Homo sapiens: one gene and its partners. The protein of the gene in region 1 interacts with the protein of each later gene in a pairwise test. Each region holds a gene or a part of one and is shown in the gene's direction. Other genes may lie near its edges. The genes, in order: RCHY1, JPH3, HRG and KLHL41.

Evidence for each region.
Region 2: the proteins of RCHY1 (region 1) and JPH3 interact in binary tests that used the Homo sapiens proteins (3 or more experiments, as listed by UniProt).
Region 3: the proteins of RCHY1 (region 1) and HRG interact in binary tests that used the Homo sapiens proteins (3 or more experiments, as listed by UniProt).
Region 4: the proteins of RCHY1 (region 1) and KLHL41 interact in binary tests that used the Homo sapiens proteins (3 or more experiments, as listed by UniProt).

Annotation. Positions count from the first base shown.
Region 1 is NC_000004.12:75,490,387-75,497,411, reverse strand, and holds part of RCHY1 (RING finger and CHY zinc finger domain-containing protein 1), read left to right. Parts: intron 1-3,232; coding exon 3,233-3,311; intron 3,312-5,478; coding exon 5,479-5,523; intron 5,524-5,629; coding exon 5,630-5,688; intron 5,689-5,774; coding exon 5,775-5,801; exon of another isoform or gene 5,802-5,829; intron 5,830-6,710; coding exon 6,711-6,831; intron 6,832-7,025. UniProt on the Homo sapiens protein: E3 ubiquitin-protein ligase that mediates ubiquitination of target proteins, including p53/TP53, TP73, HDAC1 and CDKN1B. Mediates ubiquitination and degradation of p53/TP53; preferentially acts on tetrameric p53/TP53.
Region 2 is NC_000016.10:87,598,568-87,605,519, forward strand, and holds the start of JPH3 (junctophilin-3), read left to right. Parts: upstream 1-3,940; 5' UTR 3,941-4,579; coding exon 4,580-4,961; intron 4,962-5,521; coding exon of another isoform or gene 5,522-5,592; exon of another isoform or gene 5,593-5,672; coding exon of another isoform or gene 5,673-5,851; exon of another isoform or gene 5,852-6,061; intron 6,062-6,952. UniProt on the Homo sapiens protein: Junctophilins contribute to the formation of junctional membrane complexes (JMCs) which link the plasma membrane with the endoplasmic or sarcoplasmic reticulum in excitable cells.
Region 3 is NC_000003.12:186,661,911-186,669,017, forward strand, and holds the start of HRG (histidine-rich glycoprotein precursor), read left to right. Parts: upstream 1-4,103; 5' UTR 4,104-4,121; coding exon 4,122-4,304; intron 4,305-7,024; coding exon 7,025-7,107. UniProt on the Homo sapiens protein: Plasma glycoprotein that binds a number of ligands such as heme, heparin, heparan sulfate, thrombospondin, plasminogen, and divalent metal ions. Binds heparin and heparin/glycosaminoglycans in a zinc-dependent manner.
Region 4 is NC_000002.12:169,505,385-169,512,717, forward strand, and holds the start of KLHL41 (kelch-like protein 41), read left to right. Parts: upstream 1-4,317; 5' UTR 4,318-4,394; coding exon 4,395-5,504; intron 5,505-7,333. UniProt on the Homo sapiens protein: Involved in skeletal muscle development and differentiation. Regulates proliferation and differentiation of myoblasts and plays a role in myofibril assembly by promoting lateral fusion of adjacent thin fibrils into mature, wide myofibrils.

The DNA of each region.
Region 1 (7,025 bases):
CTTATTTAAACACAGTTTGAACCGAGGACTGCCTGTGATTGGATGAAACTTGGTGATTGATTGGTACTAGAGTAGGTTACTGTAGGTAAACACATCCAGTTAGGTTACAGTTAACTATGTACAGCAAAGCCTTTTAGGACGATCTTAAAATATGTAGGAGGCAGCGTTAGGCTCAACTGAACACATGTATGTTAGGTTGCTTGAAGTTGTCTCACAGCTTACTCATGCTCTGTCGTTTTAAAAAAATTCCCTTTTCTTCCTATTTCATTTCGGATAGTTTCTGTTACTGTGCCTTCAAGTTGACTAACCTTTTTGTTAGCAATATCAAACTTGCCATTAGTTTCATCAGTGTATTTTTAAATCTCAGACATTGTAGTTTTTATGTCTAGAAGTTTGATCTGGGTCTTTAAACATATTTTTCATATTTAATACTTTTTTAATGTAATGGTATACAGTTATAATAACTTTTAATGCCCTGTATTAATTCTAACATCTGTGTCTGTTCTGGGTTGATTGATTGATTATTCTTCTCATTTTAGGTTGTGTTTTTCTGCCTCTTTGTTGCCTGGTTATTGTGGGTTGGATATCAGATGTGATTTTTCTTTTTATCATGTTTAGTGCTGGGTATTTTTGTATTCCTATAAATCTTCTTGAGCTTTATTTTGGGATGCAGTTAAGTTACTTGGAAACAGTTTAGACTTTCTGGGATTTACTTTTCTAATTTGTTAGGTAGATCTACAGAAGGGCTTATCCCAGGGCTATTCTCCACTGTTGAGGCAATATCCTTCTGAATACTCCACCCGGAGCCTGCGAATTATGAGTTTCCCCAGTCTGTTTGATGGGATCAGGCACTGTTCCTAGCCATGTGTGAGTAGTACTGTTCTCATTCTTTAGAAGGTTGTTTCCCTGGCTTTGGGTAGTTTTCTTACATCCATGTGCTGATGGGTATCCTACTAAATATTTCAGAGGTTTCTCTGTGCAGCTCTCTCCTATCTGATGCTCTGTCCTATGAATCTGTCTTGGTTTCTCTAGACTGTCTCAGCTCATCATTTCAATCATGATGTCTTCCTAGCTCACCCTTAGTTCTTCTAACCTGTCCTGGCCTCAAAACTCTCTAGGCAATAAATGAGCAATTTTAGGGCTCACTTACTTTGTTTCTTATCTCTCACAGATCACTCTGTGTTGTTGCCTGATGTTCAGTGAAACTGCTGTTTCATATATTCTGTCTTTTGTCATTATTTTTTCAGATGGGAGGGTAGGTCTGATCTCCGTTATTCTATCTTTGGCAGTAGTGGAAACGTCCCTGCAGAATTTTACTTATGGAGTTTGACAGCCTATTCTAAAGTTCATTTGTAAGAGAAAATTCACAATAGCTGAGTAAATTTTGAAGGAAGGACAACGAAGAGTGGATTGCCGTTCCACATATCAAAACATGATAAAGCTATAGTAATTCAAATAGTTTGCTGTTTGTGCAGGAATAGACGAATAGATAAATATGTGTGTGTGTATATACACAGACAAATATTTATACATATGAATTTATGGCAAAAGTGACATTTCAAATCAGGAAAGGGTAGTATTAAGATAATTGATTATCCATTCGGAAACCAAAAATTGACTCTTCAAACTGTATTCATTAGAGTATGGATTTAGCATCTTGTGACAGAAACCCAAAGTAATGGTGGTTCAAGAAAGGCAGAAGTTCATTTCTCATGGAAATAAATCTGAGTTGTGTAGCTAAACAGGAACTCAGGCTCTTCTTGTTTTTTGCCTTGTCACCCATAAGATATTTTCTTGTCTCTGTAGTCTAAAATGCCTCATATTCTGGTCTGTAGAAAGGCTAGTTAGGTGAAGGGAAGGCATATTTTTCCTCTTGAGGGTACAATGCAGAATTTTCATGTATCTCTTCTGTTCCCAACGTCCAGGTATGTTGGAAAATAGTCTTTATTCAGGACAGTTCTGAATAGCTCAGTGCCTAGCTAAATACCCTATCATTGTAGAAGAAGTGGAGAATAGAAATTTAGGGACAAGTAGCAATCTAACCTTTGCCATATATAGCAAATTTCAAATGGATTAAAGAAAAATATAAAAATGAAAAGCTGTAAGTACTAGAAGTATACATAGGAGAGTCTGTTTATGATCTATAGGTTACAAAAGTTTCCTAAACAAGAGGCAGAAAGCATAAGCTATACAGGAAAATATTGATGACTTTTTACCACATAGTAATTAAAAATGGCTATATGACAAAGTTAAGAGAAATCACAGACCAGAAAAGTAAATATAAAATATGCAAATAAAAAATTGATATTGGTGATATATAAATATAATACATGCGAATGAAAACATTGATATTCATTATATAAATAACTAATATTCATGATATATTTTTTACCAGTAAATTGGTTAAAAACAAATACTTCAGTAGAAAAATGGACAGAACATATGAACAGACAATCCACAGAGAAATCCAAGTAGTTCATTAATGTACAGTCCCTGTCTCATTATTTGTGAAATGCAAATTAAAATGACATCTTTTGTTTGTCTATAATACAAGTAACCATGTTACCCAAAGTGTGGGGAACATGGTTACTCTCATGCAGTGTTGGTGGAAGTATAAATTGGTACTGTCTATTTGGAGGTCAGTTTGGCAGTATCACAATTAATGTTGCAACATCTTCTGACTCAGTAGTTTCACTTCTAGGAATCTCGTAAAAAATAATCAACATGTGAACTAAGTGATGTCTGGACAAGGATGTTTACTGTATCATTGTAGCAACTAAAGATCATAAATTATGATCTTTCTGAGGGAATATTTAAAAAAATTAGTATACATCCATGCCATTAATGTAGCTATTAAGAAGAATGAAGTGGTTCTGTGTAGACAGACATAAAATCCTCAGAATATATCAAGTGAAAAAAAGTTGCAGAATGGCATCTGTAGAAAGAATCCATTAATGTAAGAAATCAAACCCGAAATGTGTGTGTGTGTCTGTGTTTCTCTCTTTTTGCAATTTTATAGAAAAAGAAAAAAAAGCCCTAGAAGGGTAGATACCACTCTGTGTATAGTGCTTACATTTGGAGAGGGATGTTGGGGAGATAGGGATTTATCCCATATTCTCCATTGTGGCTGGAAATTTTTTTTACAGAGACTAAACTTGTGTTTTACATAATGAACAAATCATGACTGTAGTAAAAAATAATCTAATCTTTTGGCTTTCATGTGTTTTGCTAGGATTGGTCCAAAGGAAGATTTTTTCCATTGTTTGAAATGTAACTTATGCCTAGCTATGAATCTTCAAGGAAGACACAAGGTATATAATTTAGTTTGTATAATTTTAAAAATATTACAGTGTTTTTGCAATAAGCTTAACTTCTAATATGTTTTGGAAGCATGCTAATTTTCATGTATTTCCAAGTGCAACTATATTGCTTTTTTGAAAAGCAGTATTAACAAGTAGATATTTTAAAATATGTACCTCAGAATATCTGACCTACAGTTCCTTTTCTTCTCTGTAGTGTAAGAATGCTTATATCACTTACTAGCATAATGTTGGCAACTTCCAAGTTAGTTTATGGATTCTTACCATTGGTACTGCTTTTAAGAATAACTTTAAAACAGGAGAAATACTGAATGGTGTAACCTAATTAGCACAACATTCTAAGAAAATTCAGAAAATATTTTACTATTTCTTTTTATAATTAAGACATACATATTTTAAATCTGGATGTAGGAATTATGTCACAATCCCAGGCCCTTTTTCATTATTTAAAAAAAAATCTAATAAAGTATTACATTATAGTACTGATTCTATCTACTGTAAGAATTTAATTAAGAGAATGGAGGATTGGTGTAAAGTGAAGTGTAAATCGTACTTGTTCAAGTATAGGAAATTCCAGATAAGGCAGAACAGTATAAGTAGCAACATTGTAGCTGTTGAGAGAGAGAGAGACAGATAGACATTAATTGGAAAGAGACTGTTTGAAATCATTTACTTAGCAGTATAGTAGGTTCGATAGAATATAAGAATAAGAAGTTATTGCAGAAATATAATATTAGCTAGAACTTGGCCTAAATAGTAAAGTGGTGAGGAAAATTGAGATGAATAATGAACATATATGATGTGGTAATGGTATTAAGGAAAAAGAATGAGGCAGAGTAAAGATGACTCTGAAGATTTTCAGCCCCAGCTTAAGGTACTTGATTAGTAGATTGTAAATTTTTTGAAGATAAAAGATTGAGTTTGGTTTTTAAACTTGAGTTTGGGGTGATGGCAAGCTATGCTAATGGAGATAGCCAGGAGTCAATAGTATCTTATAGATTACATTTCTATGATGTTCTGGTTTCCAAAGCATGTGTAGTGTGTGTGCACACACTAATTCATTGCATCCTCACCTCAGCATTTACATTCCATCAACTCAGAGATGCCACTGATGATCAGATATGTTGTAATTGTGGGGATGTTAAAATGTATGTGTGAGGTGCACTTTAGAATCAAATGAAATATGTATTAATTTTATTTTATAAATAAGAAACGTTAAGACTAAAGTGGTGGCTAGTCCAAAATCTCAAGGGCTGGTAAATAGCAGAGCTAGGATTACAGTCTAGATTTTTAAACTTACTATTAAGCTTATTATTTTGAGGGTTTTTCTCCCCACTATACTGTCATCTTTCAAAAACTTACATCTATTTTTTTGTTATGGTTTTTTTTGTTATGTTGTTTTTCAGTTATCTTTTATTGTCTATATTACTAAGTGGTCCTGCCATCTATTAAGTGCTTCCGTTAAAAACCTGGGAGTCTTCCATGGCACAGTGCTTTCCCTTACCTCCTTGGATTTAATCAGACATTACATCTTGTCAAATTAAGAACTCTGGCTCTGAAGTTAGCCTGCTGGAGCTCCAGTTTAATTCTGCCTCTTATTAATGTGTGACTTTGGAAGTTCCTTAGCTTCTCTAGGCCTCCACTGCTTTAACTGTAAAATGGTATAACAATCATAGCCTATTTCATCTAGGATTGTGAGATTTAATTGATCTTATACAGGTACTGTGCTGAACATGGCATGTAGTAAATTTCAATAATATGAACTATTATTACCAATATTATTAGTAAGTTGAGCTTACTAATTTAGGTCACTGGCTTTGGAGTAAAACATACATAATATGCAAAGGTTCCAAATCTTATTATCTTTGGATCTTGGGTAAGTGTCTTGAATTCCTAAGTCACTTTCCTTATTTGTGAAATGAAGGTAATCTCAATAATGTTTATTGACATTTTCATTGTATCAGATAATATGCCAAGCCTGAAATAGTGTGAGATTTAAATAACTATTAAAAAACTCTTCTTACATATAAAAAGCATATATTAATGTTAGCTATTATTTTTAGTAAGTTGGTTTTGTTAATTTTTATTATTAATATTTTTATACCTGACATTTTAATCTAGTTAAGCTTTTGTTAATGTGAATTTCTCTTTTAAACAGTGTATTGAAAATGTGTCCCGACAGAATTGTCCAATATGTTTGGAGGTAGGCTTAAAATATTTTTTACTTTGGAAGTCTCAGCTCTTGAATTTAAAATACTTGGATGTTTATATTGTCTTCATACAAGCACTAACATTTATTTCATTTACAGGACATTCACACATCCCGTGTTGTTGCTCATGTCTTGCCATGTGGACATCTTTTACATAGGTAAAGTAACATCTTTTTCTCAATGATGTTTGAAAATAGTGGAGACAGTTTTTGTTTTACTAAAATAATCTTATATTTTCTTTCAGAACGTGTTATGAAGAAATGTTGAAAGAGTGAGTGTTTGGGATTTTAAAAATAATTGTAAGATGTTTGACTTTTTTGTGTGTGTGGTGTGGGGAGGTGGACAAACATTGTTACTTATACTATATTGGGCATGGCAATATTTATATTGAAATGGGTAGGGTAGATGAATATTGTTAAAACAGGACAAAGTGTCTTGGATATAGAACTACACTTTTGCCATATGTTTCTCTTAAATCTTGTCTCCTCCCACAATTTGAGGTAGTTACCTCTTTTTTTTCTGGCCATATATACCAGGAAGTGCAGTTTTTGCCAGATGCAGTTATAGTGTTGTAAAAATGCTGAAAAATATTGCCAAAAATTTGTTAGGTTGTTATATTGGCCAAGTATAGTAAACTAAAAGAAAGTAGGTGAAGTGATCATTAAAGCTAAGACTTTATTAATGGAAAAGATATTAAAATTAGATGAAAATAATTGAAAAGAGAAGACTGTATTTTGGTCCTACATATTGATGAGCAAAAATGTGAAGAGCTAGAGAGAGCATTCTTTTTTTCAAATTTTTAGAAAGGAAATAATATCTGAATAATTTTAAACAAATACAGTCTCTTTACATGAGTGTATTAAGAAATTAAGGTTGTTTAGATAAGGAGTAGCTTAATTAGTTTATAAAAATATATGAAGTGTATTCTACAAAGAATATGGACTAATTCCTCTCCATTTTAGAGTACTGAGGAAAAAGACTTAGTTTTAAATAAGTATACAGGAATTAATTTAAAAGTTTTATAGTGTGAAAGTTCCCAGGTTCCTAAGAGATTATCTTGAAATGGAGGAAAATGCCTGTTTTGAATGGTTCATGTGGCAGTTAGCCTGCATCTTCTTGTATACCTGAATTAATATATTCTTGTTTAATATTTGGAAAATAACCTTTCTATCTCTTTCAGAGGCTACAGATGTCCATTATGTATGCACTCTGCTTTAGATATGACCAGGTATTGGAGACAGCTGGATGATGAAGTAGCACAGACTCCTATGCCATCAGAATATCAGAACATGACTGTGGATGTGAGTAGAATCAATACTTAAAACTTTGTAGACTCCTTGTTGGCACTCTTATTTTTGCCCTCCTGCTTGAATTTGCCAAAAAAAAAATATATATATACTGGTTTGACACAGATGCTAATGTGATGATTAATGGAAAGCACAAAATGATTTTTAAATTTTAGTTAAGTAGCTCAGATCGGGAAAAAAAAAGTCTT
Region 2 (6,952 bases), on another chromosome or scaffold:
GCCAGAAACTTGATCTTGGACTTTTAGCCTCAAAAACAATAAGACATTTCTGTTGTTGAAGTCACCCAGTCTGCGGTATTTTGTTATGACGGCCCTTGAAGACTAATACACAGGCAGACAGTGCTAGAAAGCTCACTGCATCACTGTAACTGCAGAAAACAAAACAAAGCCAACCGCCCTAAATGTCCCTCATTGACAGTGGGTGTATGAGGAGGTGACTGTCCTCCTGGCTGCTGGTACTCTGGGGAGGCGGCTTTGGTGCTCAAGCCAAGAGATTGAGGTTGAACTCTGGGACTCCCAGGAGGGGCTGATTTTCCTGAGAGCCCCGTGAGCAAAAAGTGGTAAACGTTTTCTGTAAAGAACAAGATGGTAAATATTTTAGGCTTTGTAGGCTATATGGTGTCTGTCACAACGACTCCACTCTTATGTTGCAGTGTAAAAGCCACTCTAGACACACAAATGAATGGCCATGGTTGTGCTTCAGTGAAATTCTGTTTATGAAAATAGGCAGTGGACTAGATTTGGCCTCTGGGTTATGGTTTGTGTGATGCCTGGCTTAAAACAACAATCTTCTTTTTTTTTTTTTTTTTTTTCAGAAAATTGAAATTCTGACAAGATGTGATGGGGAACGCTTGTCTCAGCTGCATGTGGCTTTAGCTGGGGTGACCTGCCTGGGGTCTGGAGGGTCTACTTTCAAGATGGTACACTTTTATGGCTGTCAAATGCTGCTGGCTGCTGGCTGGGAGTCTGGCTGGAGCTGTGGGTTGGAGGACCCTGTATCTCTCCTTGTTGGCACGTCCAGGGGCTGCTTGAGCTTCCTTACATCATGGCAACTTGGTTCCAAGCTTGAGCACCCCAAGAGCATGAGGCAGAAGCTGTGTTGCTGTTTATGAACTGACCTTTGAAGTCACATCCTGTCACTTCTGTGATAATCACACACTGGCCCAGATTCAGGGGAAGGGAATGCAGAGCCCACCTCTCAACAGAGACCTAGAAACGCCCAAATGGCAGTCCCACTTTGCTCCCCCAAAGCACTCCCTCAACAGGAGGGGTGTCAACACCACACTGGAAGAAGATCACGTGGAATGGGGGATCTTGTGGACATTTCACAGTGTTATGGTAAACACAGGCAAAGACAAGAAGGCAAGCACAGATAAGTTGATCGTGGCTCAGTTCTTTGAAGGAGATTAATAGGCTTTTGTGGGGATGCAGGGGGAGCTTTCTTTCTGCACTAGTCAGGAAGCCTCTCTGGAGCTGAGACCAGAAAGCTCTACTGTCATGGGAAGAGGCACCAGGCAAAAGAGACAGCAAGGACCCATGCCTGGAGGCCAGAAAGGGTGCAGGCTGGAAGGCCAGGCAGACTTGGGCTCGAATCCTGCCCAGTCATTATTTTCCCTCTGGCAAGGCACTTTACGTTGGTGGGGAAAAGTGATTCTTTTAAAAAGGAGAGTGTAATTCCAAATCACCTGAGTCCATGAGATGACTAATGTGCTGTCTTCATCCTAGTGCCTGGCTCACATGTGGGTTACAGCTTTTTTACCCTTCTCCCTGGTTTTTGTTTTTAAACGGCTGGGTGGTACTACGTTTATAGGCTTGGAGAGTTTCCTCCAAAGTGAAATCAATACTGCCAGCCCTACTTTATCGGGAGGGCGGTGATTTCCAAATTGCACAGAACAAATGCCTGTAATATCTGCATTTCAGAGACTAGAGCCTGTCACCGCTGGAGTAACTGACTGCAGGAGATGAGAGAGGGTCAGTTGGAGGTGGGGGTCTTGGAACTGCAAGGGAGCGGAGTGTACACTGGCCAAAGGTGGAAGGTGCTGACCAGTAACTGCTTGGAAGCAACCACCGTGTTTCAATAGGATCTCAGTTGCAATCCACTGCTTGTGTGAAGGAGGGCTGCTGATTCAGCAGCAAAATGGTTGGAAATAAAATGGAAGAAATGAAAAGTAGAACATACGAGTGGTGGCAATGTTTATTTCAACAGGCAGAGGGCTGGGTGTCTCCATGCAGGAATCCATGACCCTCCCTGGGGGGCTGGCTTCCAATAACATTACTTCCCACTTCCCGAGCGCTTACTGAGTGCTGGGCGCCTAGCTTTTGAATTCCCACGGTAACCCTATGGGAACTCTGCCATCTCCATTTTACAGATGAGAAAACTGAGCTCAGGGACATTAGGTGACTGCCCAAAGCCATACTGCTGGTGGGCCCCGGAGCCAAGGTTTCGACCCGAATCTCTTGAGGACAAGGTGCAGTTCCTTTGGCCCACACATTTACAACAGAGAAATTTCCATGGACATGAAACAGCCCAGAGATATTATTTCATACCCATTTAGATGAACAAAGTAAAATAAATGGAAAGAAAATCAGAAGTTTGAGGACACCAGTGCTGGCCAGGAAATAGAGAACCACAAACCCAGGCACACTGAAGGGTGAGAGGTCAGTTGCTCCAGGTGTTTGGAAAGCAATTTGGCAGCTTCCAATAAAGTCCAAGACGTAGCTGGTCCAATGATGCCACCGCAGACATTTAGAGAACTTCTGTAGAGGGGCACAGGGAGACAGCGCTAGAAAGCTCAATGAATCACTGTAACTGCACAAAACAAAACAAAGCCGACCGCCCTAAATGTTCCTCATTGACAGTGGGTGTATGAGGAGGTGACTGTCCTCCTGGCTGCTGGTACTCTGGGGAGGGAGCTTTGGTGCCCAAGGCAAGAGACTGAGGTTGAACTCTGGGACTCCCAGGAGGGGCTGATTTTTCTGAGAGCCCCGTGAGCCAAGAGTGGGGACCATCCTGATTCTCTCGGACAGGGGAAGATCTGAGCAGGGCTCCTGGCTGATTGGAGGCTCCGAATCGCACCTCTTCTCCTGTCCTAATCTCAGGCTCCAGGCCTGGCTTGCAGTTTCTGGCTCACCGCGCTGCGGTCACCGGCCCACACTCCCAGGAGCGAGGACCCTGGGCAGCCTCCACACCCCCATCAGCCCACTGCACCGGTCTGCTGCCATTTCCCGCACGCATTTCAGGAGGGCTGGGGACGCCGGCTTCTGCCTGAGGATTTATGGTCCAGGAAATGCATTTTAAATGGATCCCAGGATGCTCGGATCCAAGAATCAGACTCTCTCTTGTGCGTGGGAAGAGGGGCGGAGGGTGAGAGTATGTCTGGAGAGAGACCTAGAAACGCCCGAATGGCGGTCCCACTTTGCTCCCCAAAAGCGCGACCGTTCCCCGAGTGGGGGGGCGCTACCTGTTGGCCAGGGCGCAGGGCGCACGGAATTCGGGTGACTTTGCTCCAAGATACACGCGTGTGTCCCGACTCTCACTCAATTTATAGGGGAGAGGGACTCGCCAAATCCCTGTTTTCTGGGGTAAGCCCCCCTCCCCCCACTCTTGGACCCAAGCTGCCCGGAAGGAAGAAGGAAGCATTGTTTGTCACCGGAGAAAACCACCTGTGGTTTGCAAAGGGCCTCAGTCGAGTCAGGGGCAGGCGGGGCAGATCCGAGCCCGGCGGGAGGGGCGAGGCGCGGGGGCGGGCAGGGGCGAGGGTAGGGGCGCTCAGCTGGCAGGTCCTGCTCTGCAGGCCTCACCGCCCAGCTCCCGGGAGGGGGCCGAGGGCGCCCTGAGTGCTGCGCGCCTTCCCATGACGCAGTTCCTGTGCCTTTAAATCCCACTCCCGGAGGGGGCGGGGGCGCCCCGGCTGGACCCCGGTTTCCAGTCCGGCGGGGGCCCCGGGGAAGCCCAGGGCGGGGAGCGCGGGGCTGGGGGCGCGGAGGGCGGGGCGCCCGGGGTCCCCGCCCGCGCGCCGCGCCCTAGCCTGCTGGGCCGCGCCCCTCTTGGGACCGCCGCGCTCCGGGGGCGGGGGCGGGGGCGGGGGCGGGGGGCGGGGGGCGGGGGGCGGGCGGGGGCGCGCGGGCGGGCGGGGTGCGGGCGCGCGCCGCGCGGCCCGAGCGCGCGAGCCGGGCCCGGAGCGCACGCCGCCGCCGCCACCGCCGCCGCCGCCGCCCGAGCCGCCGCATTGCTGCTGCTGCTGCCGCCGCCGCCCCGCGCCCGGCCCGCGGCCCCCAATATGGTGCAGCCGCCAGCGCCGCCGCCCGTGCCGCCGCCGCCGCCCGCGGGCCCCGCCGCCGCCCTCGGGCGCCCGCAGCGCGGCAGCCGCAGGTGGGGGGCCGCGGCCCGGGCCTGAGCTGCCCCCCGCCCGGCCTCGGCGCGGCGCCCTCCCCGCGGGGCTGCCGGCGAGGGGCCCTCTCGCCGCTGAGGTGGAGCCGCGGGCCCCGCCGCCGCCGCTCCTGCCCCCTCCCTCCCTCCTCCCCTCCCCCTCCCCTCCGGTCCTGTCTCCAGCGGGAGCGCGAGACGCTGGTCAGGCTCCGCGGCGCAGCTCGAAAAGGAATAATCGCCCCCGATTGACTGAAATTCCTCCGGAGCCGGCGCCGCGGCCGCCCGCGCCCGAGACCGCGCTCCGGGGCCGCGTCCTCCTCTCCTCCGGAAAACGCTCGCGACCCAGGGCCGCCGGCGGCCGCGACTCTGCTGTGTCGATCGCCTGAGTCCGTTTTCACCGTTTGCGGGATCTGGAACCGAGTTACATGCATGTCCAGTGGGGGCAGGTTTAATTTTGACGACGGAGGGTCCTACTGTGGAGGCTGGGAGGACGGCAAGGCGCACGGCCATGGCGTCTGCACCGGCCCCAAGGGCCAAGGCGAATACACCGGCTCGTGGAGCCACGGCTTCGAGGTGCTGGGCGTCTACACCTGGCCCAGCGGCAACACGTACCAGGGCACCTGGGCGCAGGGCAAGCGCCACGGCATCGGCCTGGAGAGCAAGGGGAAGTGGGTGTACAAGGGCGAGTGGACGCACGGATTCAAGGGGCGCTACGGGGTGCGGGAGTGCGCGGGCAACGGGGCCAAATACGAAGGGACCTGGAGCAACGGGCTGCAGGACGGCTACGGGACCGAGACCTACTCGGACGGAGGTAGGTGCCGCGGGCCGGGCCGGGCCGGGGCGGGAGGGACGTGCTTCCGATCGCGCCCCTTCTGTGGATCTCTGGGGAAGTTGAGCTGCGTCCTCCGGTTGGGCCGTGGGCACCAGGGGCCTTTCCCGGGCTTCCCTGGAAGCCACGGCGGCTCCTGGCTACAGGTTGCCCCGCTGCCTGGTGGGGACAGTGCCCCTGTGCCAGCTGAAGGGTGTTGGGGGCTTTCCAGGGGCAGAGCCAGGCGGGGCCCAGCAGAGCCTCCGTGCGTCGGACACAGCAGGCCGGAGACCTGCGGGAAGGGCCAGGCTGGGCCCGCGGCCCTGGGGAACCCAGCAAGGGCAGAGGGGGCTGGGAGAAGGGCCCCTCCCCTTGTTGGCTTTGCCCCCCACCCTGGAGGCCGCCCTTCGATCAGGCCCCAGCTTCGCTTCTGGTGTTCCTGCGGCGCCCGAGGGCCTTCCTCAGCCCCGAATCTGCCCAAGCCGAGAGAAAGGGAGTGATGGGGAGCGCTAGGGGCGGGGGATGCCAACCCGAACCAAAACAGCCAGGCAGTACACTTCTAGGTGGTTGGACGCGGACTAGCGCTGTCGAAGCAGGCTGCTGGAGGGAGGAGGGAGGCCCATCTGCTCAGTGAGAGCCCAGGAATCTCGTCTTTCAGTGGCTGCATCGTTTTCACCATTAGTTGAGGGAATCGATCTGTGCCTTCATTCTAAGATGCCACCGCATTCGGGGCAGAGCCGGGGCCGGAAGCCAGGGAGCTGCCTGCTGCTGCTGCTGCTGCTGCTGCTGCTGCTGCTGCTGCTGTAAGATGGTTTCTGTGCAGGGAACCTTGGCCGGCTCTGCAGCTGCCCGCCTGCCTGGACTCTCCGATATCCACTCCTCAGTGCACCTGACACGCATGGAGCCGGTCCTTTCCTGGAAGCCAGACCCCAAACAAACTGGCTTCCCCGACCAGTCCACTCCCATGTGGGAGCTTATCCTCAGAGGCACTGGGTCCTCTGCCTCCCTCGGGCGGCTCGCCTGTTTCAGGCATGGATGCCTGGGAAGGGAGTGAGACGCAGCAATGACTTGTGCTTCTGCCGAGAATAAAAATCCTGAGCGTACGTGTGCTCTAGTCCTCCCCGCCCGCTCGCTGCCTCCGAGTCTCATGAAGAAAGCTCGGAACACCTGCTCCACGGCCACATCCAGGAGTGGCAGGGGGCTGGAGAGTAATTATTATTTTGGCTTATGCAACTGAAAAGCAGGGTTCGTTATTACCCGAAGAGGAGGAGGAGTCTGGGGCAGTTAATTATATAATGCTCCTGCCTGTCAAAGCCGTGCCCAGCCCCGGTCTCAGGCGGCCTTTTCTGTGCCGTTGTTGTTTTCATGGAGCAGGTTGGAGAGCTTCCCTGACCCTGGGGCGCTGAGGGCCGGGCGGGAGCAGACGGTGCTCCCTTGGTTCCAGGCTGTGGGCCTGTGTGTGTGTGTGCGCGCGCGTGCAGGCACAGGGAGGCCCGGGCAGCAGATGTGGGTGGCTGAGACAGGCAGGCAGCCTGGCGCTTCCAGCTGGGCTGTTTGGAGCCCAGGGGCTGCTATCACCCCCAGGCTCTGGCCAGGAGGCTCTGCAGACCTGTCCTCCAGAGGTGCTCCTGGCTGAGCCTGCTCCAGGAGGACTGTGCAGGCCGGGCTCACGCAGGGCATGGGGACGAGAGGAGCCAGGGCTTTCGTTGTCTCTGAAACTCCTCAGAATATCTGGGGGTGAGGCTGAGCACCCCACTCTGCCCACGCTCCTCAGACATCTCCAGAGTCCTGAGGAATCATTTCTTTCATTCAACAAATACTGATGGAATGTTTGCTATGAGCCAGGTGTGCCAGGCTCTGGGAAAACCACACTGAGCAAAGCAGACAGCCAGGTGTCCTAGGCTTTGGAAAAACCACACTGAGCAAAGCAGACACAGATCTTTGCCCTCACGGAGCTTACATTTGAGGGAGAAGGAGCGGCGATTATGTTGTGA
Region 3 (7,107 bases), on another chromosome or scaffold:
GACTGTATCTCTCTGATCCACCTGACATTCACCCCATTTCCCCATATTTTCTCCTTTCCTGTTCCTCACCCTGATCACGCTTGATTTATTGATGGCAGTTCCACCAGGCCTAATCGCCACACACCAGCAAAGGCAGGCTATGCTATGGTACAAGCCACTAGCCCGCCTCTTAGAACCTCTCATTTCCTTTCCATCGTGGAAATGTATCCTCAAGGAAATAACTTCTCAGTGTTCCATCTGCTATTCTACTACTCCTCAGGGATTATTCAGGCCCCCTCCCTTCCCTACACATCAAGCTCAGAGATTTGCCCCCACCCAGGACTGGCAAATTAGCTTTACTCAACATGCCCCGAGTCAGATAACTAAAATACCTCTTGGTCTAGGTAGACACTTTCACTGGATAGGTAGAGGCCTTTCCCACAGGGTCTAAGAAGGCCAACACAGTCATTTCTTCCCTTCTGTCAGACACAATTACTCGGTTTGGCCTTCCCACCTCTATACAGTCCGATAGCAGACCGGCCTTTATTAGTCAAATCAGCCAAGCAGTTTTTCAGGCTCTTAGTATTCAATGAAACCTTTATATCCCTTACAGTCCTCAGTCTTCAGGAAAAGTAGAATGGACTAATTGTCTTTTAAAACCTCAGCCACCAACTTAAAAAGGGCTAGAAAAACTTTTACCTCTTTCTTTTCTCAGAAGTCAGGCCTGTCCTCAGAATGCTACAAGGTACAGCCCATTTGAGCTCCTGTATAGAGGCTCCTTTTTATTAAGCCCCAGTCTCATTCCAGACACCAGACCAACTTAGACTGTGCCCCAAAAAACTTGTCATCCCTACTATCTTCTCTCTAGTCATACTCCTATTCACTGTTCTCAACTACTCATACATGTCCTGCTCTTGTTTACACTGCCAGTTTACACTGTTTCTCCAAGCCATCACAGCTGATATCTCCTGGTGGTATCCCCAAACTGCCATTCTTGAAGTAAATAAATAATCTTTGCTGGCAGGACTACGCTGAATCTCCTTAGGCACTCTAATTAGATGTCCTAGGTCTTCCCAATTCTTAGACCTTTAATACCTGTTTTTCTCCTTCTCTTATTCCATTTAGTTTCTCAGTTCATACAAAACCATATCCAGGCAATCATCAATAATTCTAAATGACAAATGTTTCCTCTAACAGTCCCACAATATCACCCCTTACCACAAAATCTTCCTTCAGCTTAATCTCTCCCACTCTAGGTTCCCACGCCGCCCCTAATCCCACTCGAAGCAGCCCTGAGAAACATCGCCCATTATCTCTCCATACCATCCCCCAAAATTTTTGCCATCCCAACACTTTACCACTATTTCATTTTATTTTTCTTATTAATATAAGAAGACAGGAATGTCAGGCCTCTGAGCCCAAGCTAAGCCATCATATCCCCTGTGACCTGCACATGCACATCCAGATGGCCGGTTCCTGCCTTAACTGATGACATTCCACTACAAAAGAAATGAAAATGGCCTGTTCCTGCCTTAACTGATGGCATTATCTTGTGAAATTCTTTCTCCTGGCTCATCCTGGCTTAAAAGCTCCCCTACTGAGCACCTTGTGACCCCTACTCCTGCCTGCCAGAGAACAACCCCCCTTTTTCCTTTACCTACCCAAATCCGATAAAACGTCCCCACCCCATCTCCCTTCTCTGACTGTCTTTTTGGACTCAGCCCGCCGGCACCCAGGTGATTAAAAGCTTTATTGCTCACACAAAGCCTGTTTGGTGGTCTCTTCACACGGACGCGCATGAAAGATACCATCTGTGTAAAGTCAGCACTTCCATCTGAGGCCACTCTCTAGTTCCCATAATGCTAATAGGAACCATCCCCAAAGCCAAATATCACTTACTGGATCAGAGTTCTCAGGACAGAATGTCTCTCTTACTACCATTCAGCTTCCTCCCAACCATTACCATCCCAGCACCCTTAATGTGCTCTCTCCCCTGAAGCTGCTCCAGTTGCTAGAATGGCATCATTAGTACTGTATCACTCTTTAAGATTCAGTAAAGCAACAGGAAGAGGATGCATGACTCCCTGAGGTACTCTGTAGTCTCAGCAGAACAGCACTGTAGGAAAATTATATTCCTGTTCTTGATGCCTCTTCCCATCCCCTCAACATTCCCATTCCTTTCCCTACACCAGCATTTGGTTCACCCAGGACACCCCATTTAGGGTGCAGCCAATATAGCCATAATAGAAAAACTTCATTAAGGAGCTCAACTCATAATAACAAAAACTCAAAATAGTTTTTGTTTTAATCAATAGCTTTCCCCTTCCCCACTGGGTTGGAGCCTCTTAACACCTTGACCAGATTCCATACATTCCTGTCATTTTCTGTTGCACTGGACTGGTCCCATTGGGTATTTAAAAGCCAGGGTTACTGACATTAAAAGTTCAATTGCAAACATTATTCAAAACCTGTTGCACTCATTAACCCTGTGACTTGTGGAAATGAGATCTACTTTTCATACACCTCCCTTTTCTTTCTGTCTTCAAATCCTTTCCCTCTCTTCAGTTCACTCTAGAATCCCAGTAATTCTCAACCTTGACTGCACACACTGGATTACCTAGGAGTTTAAAAACTACCAATACCAAAGTCCACTCCCAGAGATTCTGATTAAATTGTCCTGGAGGAGTCCTTGACATCAGGACTTTTTAAAGCTCCTGGGGTGATTCTAACATGAAGCCGAGTCTGAGAGACATGACTGCAGACTCTCACAGACACTCACTGCGGATAGAACAGGGAGGAATGGAGATGCTGCCTAACTGGCTGTTTCTTGGCAGTGAGGACGGAACCTAGGCTGATTCCCTCTGGTCCCTTCTGATGCTGCTGGCTCTGCTGGTCTGAGGGTTGCATATAGGTATACGGGTTTCTTCTGAAGTGTGAAGGTAGGGGGTCAGCTGTATCATAGCCCAGTCCCCCCCTGCTGATCCCTTCTAACAGTGGGATGGGCATCCAACTATTTGACTCTTACTCTCACCACCATCCTCTTCCACGTGAATCAATTCTTTTTGCAGGGAATTGGGGTGGCATGAGGTGTCCCCAACTTCTTTGCAGGCACACTAATAATAAATAGCATCACTTATTCAGCATCTACTCTATGCCAAGAATTATACTGGTTGCTTTCTTTTTTTCTTTCTTTCTTTTTTAGATGGAATCTCACACTGTCGCCCGAGCTGGAGTGCAGTGGCGCGATCTCAGCTCACTGCAATCTCCGCCTCCCGGGTTCAAGTGATTCTCCTGCCTCAGCCTCCCAAGTAGCGGCGATTACAGGCATGTGCCACCATGCCCAGCTAATTTTTTGTATTTTTAGTAGAGACAGGGTTTCACCATGTTGGCCAGGCTGGTCTCAATCTCCTGACCTTGTGATCAGCCTGCCTTGGCCTCCCAAAGTGCTGGGATTACAGGCATGAGCCACCGCACCCAGCCTGATTTCTTATTTAATTATCACACAAGCCTGCCAAGAGGTATCAATCCATATTTCGTAAATGAGGGAACTATCAGAGAAGTTTTGTTGCTTACCCAGCATTACACAGTAAGAAAGTAATAGAGCCAGGTGAGAAATTCAGATTTGACTTCAAAACGACAGCCTCTTCATTGTTCTATTTTACCTGAAGTCATTCCTTTTATAATGGTACCTGTTTAACATGTTCCCCCGCTTAGATAATGCAGCTGCCTTCTACTGAGGAGTTTTAGTGCCATGATCCATCAGTCCACTGACTGATGATGGAGATTTCCAGCTGAGACAGGCAGGCAGATGGAGGAAAATTACCCCTAGCCCCACCCCCTACACCAACATAGGCACTGCTTATATTCAAAGACGTACTTTAGATCTGCTATCTACTAGAAAAATCCAGATTTGTGCAGATCACAGTTCCACCCACTCATCAGCATTTCTCAGCTTTCTGCCCCCAGGACCCACTAATCATTTACAGCTTGTTGATGGTTATTTGAACCCAGGGTCAAGGTGAACACCCTCAGTTACACAACAAAAATGTATCAAGGTTTTGTTTAATCAATTGCGTGTGTTTCAGAAAGTCTGTATAAAATTCTCTGCAGTGGCAGATCATAGCAAGGGATGGTTTAACAAAATGAAGGCACTCATTGCAGCACTGCTTTTGATCACATTGCAGTATTCGTGTGCCGTGAGTCCCACTGACTGCAGTGCTGTTGAGCCGGAGGCTGAGAAAGCTCTAGACCTGATCAATAAAAGGCGACGGGATGGCTACCTTTTCCAATTGCTGCGGATTGCTGATGCCCACTTGGACAGAGTGGTGAGGAATTGCCAATGGCAGAGCTGAGTTGGGAGATTACTCACGGGGGCAAATGTGACTCTACCCCCTAGGCTTACTGCTTTGCACAATGAATGGCTTTGGTCAGAGTTTTTTGTTTGGCTTCTGCGGCTGCTCTAAATTGTTCTTTTTTCCTTCAAACTAATATTTGTTATTAGTGTACCCGCAACTATGATTCGATTTGTGGGTACATATAAGCATTTATGCTGAGCCCAGTTACATGCTAAGGACTGCCAGAGAAACATTAGAATAAGCTATGGGCCTTGGCCTCCAGGAAATAATAATACACTGGCACATACAGGCAAACAGTGTAAGTTACTAGGATAAACTAGAGAGAAGGAAAAGTTTTCTCAACCCTCCTAAGGCTCCTAACTGAGCCTGAAATAAAACTGGTAGACAAGGCCAGGCGCGGTGGCTCACGCCTGTAATCCCAGCACTTTGGGAGGCCAAGGCGGACGGATCATGAGGTCAGGAGTTCAAGACCAGCCTGGCCAACATGGTGAAACCCTGTCTCTACTAAAAATACAAAAACTAGCTGGGCATGGTGGTGCACGCCTGTAATCCCAGCTACTCAGGGGGTTGAGGCAGAAGAATCGCTTGAACTCGGGAGGCAGAGGTTGCAGTGAGTCGAGATCATGCCACTGCACTCCAGCCTGGGCAACAAAGCTAGACTCCATCTCAAAAAAAAAAAAGAAGAAGAAGAAAACATACAAATTTATTTAATCCAAGGTTTACCTGACACTGGAGTCTTCATAAATGAAGACTCAGATATCCAAAGAAACTGGCCACTTGCATACTTAGAATTCACAAAGGCTGTGCAGAATGCAGAAGTGTGATGGGACAAAAGGCTGTAATCTAAGAGTCATAGACTGAAAGAAGGACCCAGCAAGGCCTCTCTGTTTGAGTTCTTCATGGCCTCTCTGTGTGGCATTTCTTGCTCCCAAGTATGGGACAGGATCCCTTTGGAATGCGGATCTGAGGACCTACTATCAAACAGAGTAGGTCAGAGAATGTCTTTATGGCCAGCTCCTACAAAGAAAGACACAGGGGGAAGGTTAGATTCATATTTTAGGATTTATGGATGCTTTCGGGGAGAGGGATTCTACCATCTGTGACTGTCCTGGAGAAGAGAAATTTTAGTTTCTATGGCTTGCCTTGGGGGAGAAAGCAGAGTAGGAGAACAAAGGGCAGAAGGTCAGACAGATCTGGCTTCTGAGGCCCTTCCCATTTTCTTCAGTTCAAAGGACTCAGCACGCCAAAAGTACCATACTTTGAGATACCATGTTCTGAGCCCCAACAATAGCCAAGTGACCAAAGGAGTGGTAAATGTACTGGAGCAATTTAATGAGGGGAGATCTAGTAAGACTGGATGGGAGGAGGCTTCTGCTGTGTAATGATGCATGGGTAGGATTTGAACAGGTCTGGGTAAATGTGTTCCTGGTGAATTCCTGGCACCACCACTTCTAGGTGGGTATGGAATCAGGAAGAAGGGTGTTAGGGAGCCATTGAATATAAGCAGGTGGGTTCCAGAAGTTCCATGTGGGCTCTGGAGCAGGCATCAGGTAGGAGCCAAGCCTGTGGGCTTGTCTTGAGGTGAAACAAGCTTACTGTCTTCGCTTAGATTACACGCCTACCTAAACTGGACTAGAGGAGCCGATAGACATTATAGAGAGACATGAAGCCTGCCTCTAAGCTCCCCAAATAACCTACTCTCCCTCTGATGGAAAAACTGAAATTAGGGAGGCCAGACAAGGAGTACTACAGAGGACAATTTACCCTTCTGAAAGTATCACAGAGGGAGGCACTGTGGGTTGCAGAGAACAGGTGTGCAGGAGTTTAGGATTCAACCAGTAATTCAGTGACCATTAGTCCCATGCCAGGCTCATCAACACATGTTAGGGCATAGGATGCATCAGCACAGAGCTGCCTCTGAGAGCTAGCATAGAGAGCGGGTGGATGGGGAGGGGTCCTGATGTGCCTGGGGAAACTGAGGCAAGAGACAGGGACATGAAGTAGAAAGCTATTTATGTATTCAGGAATGAAAGAACAAGGGTCAGACCTGGGTTAGTGGGAGTCAGGGCAATGAGACTGAGGAATAGACATGAGAGACGTTGCCAAGAAAGACCATTCAGGGCCTGGTACTGGATAGCAAAAGCAAGGACAAGGAAAACATCTCGTAGGTTTACATGTTTTACCCCAGAGTCTAAGGCAATATGTTGTTAGTGGTGCCACTGACAAAGACGAGGGAAGTGGAGAGGGCAGCTAGTTTGTAAGAGAAGAGAGAGGATTTAGCTTTGGGCAAAGCAACATCAAAGCAGAAAATCCCATGATCAGTAATAGAGCTGGGCAAGAGGACACAACTACAAGGACAGATTGGAGGCCCTGATGAGGTCGTCATGACTTATACTTCCAGGCATGCGTAGGTGATGATGCCTCCGCTAAACCACCACTGCCGTTTAGTGATAGCTTCTTCAAGTTTATGGGCAGAAGACAAATCAGGACCACTTAAAAAGATTTGGAAATAACTCATTGAAGCTATGTATTGGAATCAATAGATCAAATGACGCAAAGGTAGAGCATCTGCAAAGACAGTGAGAGGAACAGGAATTCTGTTTAAGTAATAAATATATAGCTTTAATACATAAAAAAAAACCCGCTAGGTTTCCATGTGCTACTCACATGTTGCTTTTGGCATTCCTCAGGAAAATACAACTGTATATTACTTAGTCTTAGATGTGCAAGAATCGGACTGTTCGGTCCTATCCAGGAAATACTGGAATGACTG
Region 4 (7,333 bases), on another chromosome or scaffold:
GGAAGTGAGGAGCGTCTCTGCCTGGCTGCCCATTGTCTGGGACGTGAGCAGCCCCTCTGCCTGGCTGCCCAGTCTGGAAAGTGAGGAGCGTCTCTGCCCGGCCGCCATCCCATCTAGGAAGTGAGGAGCGCCTCTTCCCACCCGCCATCCCATCTAGGAAGTGAGGAGCTTCTCTGCCTGGCCGCCCATCGTCTGAGATGTGGGGAGCACCTCTGCCCGGCCGCGACCCCATTTGGGAGGTGAGGAGCAACTCTGCCCAGCCGCCCCGTCTGAGAAGTGAGGAGACCCTCCGCCTGGCAACCGCCCCGTCTGATAAGTAAGGAGCCCCTCTGCCCAGCAGCCGCCCCGTCTGAGAAGTGAGGAGCCCCTCTGCCCAGCAGCCACCCTGTCTGGGAAGTGAGGAGCGTCTCCGCCCGGCAGCCACCCAGTCCGGGAGGGAGGTGGGGGGGTCAGTCCCCCGTCCGGCCAGCCGCCCCGTCCGGGAGGTGAGGGGCGCCTCTGCCCAGCTGCCCCTACTGGGAAGTGAGGAGCCCCTCTGCCCCGCCAGCCACCCCGTCCGGGAGGGAGGTGGGGGGGTCAGCCCCCCGCCCGGCCAGCCGCCCCGTCCGGGAGGGAGGTGGGGGATCAGCCCCCCGCCCGGCTAGCCGCCCCGTCCGGGAGGCGAGGGGCGCCTCTGCCCGGCTGCCCCTACTGGGAAGTGAGGAGCCCCTCTGCCCGGCCAGCCGCCCCGTCCAGGAGGGAGGTGGGGGGGTCAGCCCCCCGCCCGGCCAGCCGCCCGGTCCGGGAGGGAGGTGGGGGGGTCAGCCCCCCGCCCGGCCAGCCGCCCCGTCCGGGAGGTTAGGGGCGCCTCTGCCCGGCCGCCCCTACTGGGAAGTGAGGAGCCCCTCTGCCCGGCCACCACCCCGTCTGGGAGGTGTACCCAACAGCTCATTGAGAGCGGGCGATGATGACAGTGGCGGCTTTGTGGAGTGGAGGTGGGGGGAAGGTGGGGAAAAGATTGAGAAATCGGATGGTTGCCGTGTCTGTGTAGAAAGAAGTAGACATGGGAGACTTTTCATTTTGTTCTGTACTAAGAAAAATTCTTACCCTAAAACTTAAAGTATAATAAAAAAAAAAAAACTTCAGTTTTCTAAAAATTATATTTAAAATTGTAATCAAAATGTACCTAGTTTATAAATGTTTATTTTGTACTTAATACCTGTAAAGTCTTAGTTTTCAGACATTAAGTGACTGTATCATGTTCGGTTTAATAAAGAATTTATGCAGCACCATTTAACGTTTTGAAAGTATTATTTAAAAGAAAAAGACTATTCTTACGGAATAATCAAAATTCTGCTTTCTTAATTGTAAAAATCTGGTTTAAATATCCCATGGCTCCTGGCCAGGCATGGTGGCTCGTGCCTATAATCTCAACACTTTGGGAGGCCGAGGCAGGCAGATCACTTGAGGTCAGAAGTTTGAGACTAGCCTGGCCAACATGGTGAGACCCGTCTCTACTAAAAATATAAAAATTAGCTGGGCGTGTGGTGGGCACCTGTAGTCCCAGCTACCTGGGAGGGGCACGAGAATCACTTGGACCTGGGAGGTGGAGGCTGCAGTGAGCCAAGGATCGCACCACTGCACTCCAGCTTGGGCAACAGAGCAAGACTCCATCTCAATAAATAAATAAATAAATAATCACATAGCTCCAAATGTAAACCAACTCTAATACAAATTGTAATCCTTAAACCTGTCATTTTTGTAAAAACTAAAAATTACAACTAACTCTGGAATACATCAACCCCCCCCTTTAAAGTGCTTTGGATGCTATTTTGTAAGAATTTCAATGTAGTTTTGGCAAGAATACATTTACTTTGTAAGAAAATAGCTTTGTTTATTAACTTTCTCTTTGTATTTATTGAAACTTCTTTGAATTTTCAAAAATAGGATATTATTTTTCTCATTTCTTGGTTAGGTAAGACTTGTTGACCTCTCTAGGATCATTCGGTGTTTTTGACCACTGTTTCCGTGTAAAACACATTGTAAGGAATCTTTTTCAAATAATTGAAATTAGCCAAAGGAGCCCTCTTCTTCCAGAGGGAAAAGTATGTAAAAACATTTAAAATAAGATGCAAGTCTGTGTACAACCATAGACATACAGTACAACCAAGTGCTAACCTAAGTTTATTAAAAATCAACAAAAGCTACAAATTGGCTTCTTCATTTAAATGGAAAAGGATTTCTACATTTTAAGGGTTGGAATTATAATAAACCACCTTTAAGACGAGGGGAAAGAATGTATGAAAAATTTGTACTGGTCACAGATAAAATGCTGCCATAACTATTGTTTAAATATTGTTTTTTTCAAGCAAAAGAGACTATAAAATTGCTGACTAGTAAGGAATAATCTCAAATGTCATATGATGTTTGCATCTGACTCATTAATCTTTTCAAATGTTAGATGTTACATGTAGAGAGAAATGAGTCATTTATTGTTTAAACAAGGAAGCAGCTGTTAGTTTTTTCTGGTGTGTTAAAACCTTTAGTGGCATCTATAAATGGAAAAAGAGTCAATGAGCTCTTCTTTCAGCTGTTGTTTTAGCAGCTGACAGTACCATTGACTTCACTGTGATGTAAAATAAAAGAAAAGGCCTTTACTCATGGATAGAGACCTTGAAGTTTAAAAATACATAATTCCTTGATCTGGGGCATTCATTCATTCAACAAATACTTATAAAGCACTCACGAAACCCCTACGCTATAGCATTTGAAAAGAACAGACACTCCCACAATCCCTGTCTTCATGGAATTTGTTTTTGGGGGTATGTGTAAAAATACCAACTTTTGAAATTACAGTATTTCTACAGCCCTACTTGAGTTCAGATAATGTGACAATATGACTGTGTAATAAAGTATTTAATGGGCCCAGTGCGGTGGCTCACACGTGTAATCCCAGCAATTTGGGAGGCCGAGGCAGGCGGATCGCGAGGTCAGCAGTTCGAGACCAGCCTGGCCAACATGATGAAACCCTGTCTCTACTAAAAATACAAAAATTAGCCAGGCATGGTGGCGGGTGCCTGTAATCCCAGCTACTCGGGAGGCTGAGGCAAGAGAATTGCTTGAACCCGGGAGGCAGAAGTTGCAGTGAGCCGAGACTGCGCCATTGTACTCCAGCCTGGGTGACAGAGCGAGACTCTGTCTCAAAAATAAATAAATAAATGAAAGTATTTAATGAAGTATATTATACCATCTATATATAAACAAAGGACCGATTTTCTTTCAAATCATTACTTCTACCTCCATAATTAATATGGTATTCTATTATAATCAACAGCCTACGTTATGTCCCCAGTTATATACTCTTTAAAAAAAGGGGGGGCTGTTCTCTATGACCATTGTAGGAGTTCATCTTGATTTTGCTGTGTTTAGTGATAACATTGTTCTCATGGGGTTATATCTGTTCTATTTTTCACGTTTTATTTAATGAATGATAATTTTTGATATTTAAAATTACAGATTATCTTTTGTGATCTTATTTGAATGTGTGTGGACTTTTTCGTTCCCTAGATTGACTTTTAATTATTTTTTCTGGCTCTGTGATTCCTTTTAACCTTTTGCTTTTATTTTACCTTATTATCGTTTGCCACATTAGATCATTTGTATGACAAGGCAGGATATGAATAAATAATTTTATAATTTAATTCAATATTAATTACAGTTTTTCCATGTAAGAATAATTTGGAATGTTTTAGAAAATTAGCAATTCCTCTGCATTTCTTTTTTCAATTATCATGGCAACATTAAAGGTTTTGTAAAACTAGTACAGAAGTAAACATCTTTAAGTTTACTACTTCTAAAAGAAATATCTATATCCCACTGTTCTGAGTAGAAAGTAAAAATTTGTATGTTAACAATTATTGGAAATGAGATCTTGCTTATGAGTATTCAAATGAACACATCTCATATTCTTGACCTTTGCATCATTAATTCAGAGAGCCAAGTAGCTTGACACTAGAACATATTTAGAGGAGTGACTCATTTTTATGATTCATTTTTCTGTTAATTCAATAAACATTTTCTTGTAGTAGCCTTTATTAGTATATCTTCTAATGTGTTATGTATTTTTAAGCTTTCAACTTCACTTAAATGTCTTGTTTCTTAGCTGTTTCCCTAGTGATTAAAAGTTCCAGTTGTTACTTTCAATCTATAACAGCTGCAAGAACAACTCTTCTTTCCAAGCCAGCTCTCCTAAATTCCCGTTGTTAGAGTTGGTATCTATATTTAGCTAGTGGGATTAAATTGCAAAGGCTTCAAGCTGGGCAAAGCACACTGATCTGCCTTTTTACAGCTAGACCTGTGTGCTGCAAGGAGCTAAGGCCTTCAGTGTCCCCTTCCTTACCCAGGTTTCTCACAGAATGGATTCCCAGCGGGAACTTGCAGAGGAACTGCGGCTTTACCAATCCACCCTTCTTCAGGATGGTCTAAAAGATCTCCTGGATGAGAAAAAATTCATCGATTGCACCCTAAAAGCAGGTGACAAAAGTCTTCCTTGCCACAGATTGATTTTGTCAGCTTGTAGTCCTTACTTCCGTGAGTACTTTTTATCTGAAATTGATGAGGCGAAAAAAAAGGAGGTAGTGCTAGACAATGTGGATCCTGCTATACTTGATTTAATCATCAAATACCTGTACTCTGCCAGTATTGATCTCAATGACGGAAATGTGCAAGATATTTTTGCATTGGCCAGCCGCTTTCAGATCCCCTCAGTGTTTACTGTCTGCGTTTCTTATCTTCAGAAAAGACTTGCTCCTGGTAACTGTCTAGCCATCCTAAGATTAGGACTTCTTCTTGACTGCCCGAGACTCGCCATTTCTGCCCGTGAATTTGTGTCTGATCGCTTTGTACAGATTTGTAAGGAAGAGGACTTTATGCAACTGTCTCCACAGGAACTGATCTCAGTCATTTCAAATGACAGCCTAAATGTAGAAAAAGAAGAAGCAGTATTTGAGGCAGTGATGAAATGGGTGCGAACAGACAAGGAAAACAGGGTTAAAAACCTTAGTGAAGTGTTTGATTGTATCCGTTTTCGCCTTATGACAGAAAAATATTTTAAGGATCATGTTGAGAAAGATGATATAATTAAAAGCAACCCAGACCTCCAGAAAAAAATCAAAGTTCTAAAAGATGCTTTCGCAGGCAAACTCCCAGAACCTAGCAAAAATGCCGCGAAGACTGGGGCTGGTGAGGTGAATGGTGATGTTGGTGATGAAGATTTACTTCCTGGTTACCTGAATGACATTCCCAGGCATGGAATGTTTGTAAAAGACCTCATCCTCTTGGTTAATGACACAGCAGCAGTGGCTTATGACCCCACGGAAAATGAATGCTACCTTACTGCACTGGCTGAGCAGATTCCCAGAAATCATTCCAGCATTGTTACCCAGCAAAATCAGATATATGTGGTAGGAGGACTATATGTGGATGAAGAAAATAAGGATCAACCTCTACAGTCATACTTCTTCCAGGTAAGAAGGACTTTTTGTATATGTAGTTGCTTAAAGGGAAGGCTGTTACTCACCATCCAGTTAGCCAATTTGTGAATTATTCAAGCTGCTTGCATTTTACTCTAATTGATGTCCTATTCCAGTCCCTTGCACTTTTGCTGTATAGAGCGTTGACAGAAAAATATTTGACTGCTTTGTTAATGTGTAATAAAAAGTTTGGTGAATAATGAGGTTCTAATTCATGTTTAATGACTTAAGATGTTCTTTATACTATTTTACCAAAAATGCCTTGTTTATAGATGATCGTGACTGTAATCCCTCAAAGCCCAGTATTTTAGTAAAAACTAAATTTATTTTTTCTTAGCAGAGATGGGCTCTCACTATGTTGCCCCGGCTGGTCTCGAACTCCTGGGCTCAAGCAATACTCCCAGTTTGGCTTCCCAAAGTGCTGGGATTACCGGTGTGAGCCACCACCCCCTGCTGTAAAAACTAAATTTAATCTTGTATACTCTTACCTATTAAAAATAGTTAATGTCTTTCCCCAAATAGTTTCCCTAAATCAAAGTTCTTATCCATTATAAAGAAGTAATAATTGGTCAGATTTTCTTTTTTAATTTCTTTTTCTTCTTCATCTGCTGGCAGCTCTAAATTGGTCAGATTTTCTACCTTCTTCCAAGTTTCCCTGAACTTCATTTGAAGTTCTTGGAGGTAGCACTTCATCTCTTATTTATGGTTACTGCCTAAAATATAATTTTGTTGAAAATGAAAAAAACTTGTATATATATTCCACACACTTTGGATTATCTTCTAGGAAAAACTGTCTACACAAAAGTCGCTAATTTGAATTAATTATAGTTAGAAATTTTTATTATATCACATTTATTTGGATCAGAGATACATTTAGACATTATTAGAACTTAACAATCTGTTTTGTGAAACCACAGAATTTTCCAAGAAAATTAATTCTCCTAAACCAATATACCCTTAGTTGTTTGAAAGGAATTTGTCTTATATTATCAATGTGTTATACTTTATCAGTTTATGAAGGAGTTGGCTTAACCTTTGTCTTCCATAATGCCAATACCGAAACTTTATAGCTTACAACTGGCTCAAAAGAGTTTGTTTAGGTCATAGCTAATCATGGCTGGGGCTTATGGGCACTTTAGTTGGAAAGGCCAAAGATAAGCAAGTATACAATGTCATACCACAGTCACAGTATGCTCTCAAAGTGTGTGATATACTTTGCATTCACAAAATACTATTATACCTTTAATCAACTTTTTCTAATCTTGAAAAATGTAGTTGTGATAATACATATTAATCATGTTTCTTAATTTTCAAAGTTCCAGTGAAGAATGTTATAAGTATTTGAATGTGGGTCAGAAAATTTCCCAAGCCCTAATTTTAAAGTCAAATAAACGTCAAAAGTGGCAAAGTCAATGAAAAAGGCTATAAATACATCCAGGAAGTAAGAATGTTATAAAAACACAGATAGACAGATGACAGACATATAGGTAGATACCTACAAATGACAGATCCACGGAATAGTTGTTGCCATGGAATGATTCTCCAAAATTACTGGAGTTTTAAATTTCATTTCATATTTAATTTATTGAATATATCTATAACACGGTCCTTTTTACTTTCAAGTGTTCAGTTTAATCTTTGTCCTCTTCCAGCCTAATAAAACCCTTACTTTTACTGACGCAGCTTCTCATTTTTGGTTCAAGAAACCTACTTAATGTTCTGTATAACAGAACATTAACAATAACAGTTATACAAAGTTGGAAGGTCAGCAAAGCAAATGCCTTGCTGCTTTTAAAAGGCACTAATAGAACGGTATGCCAGGA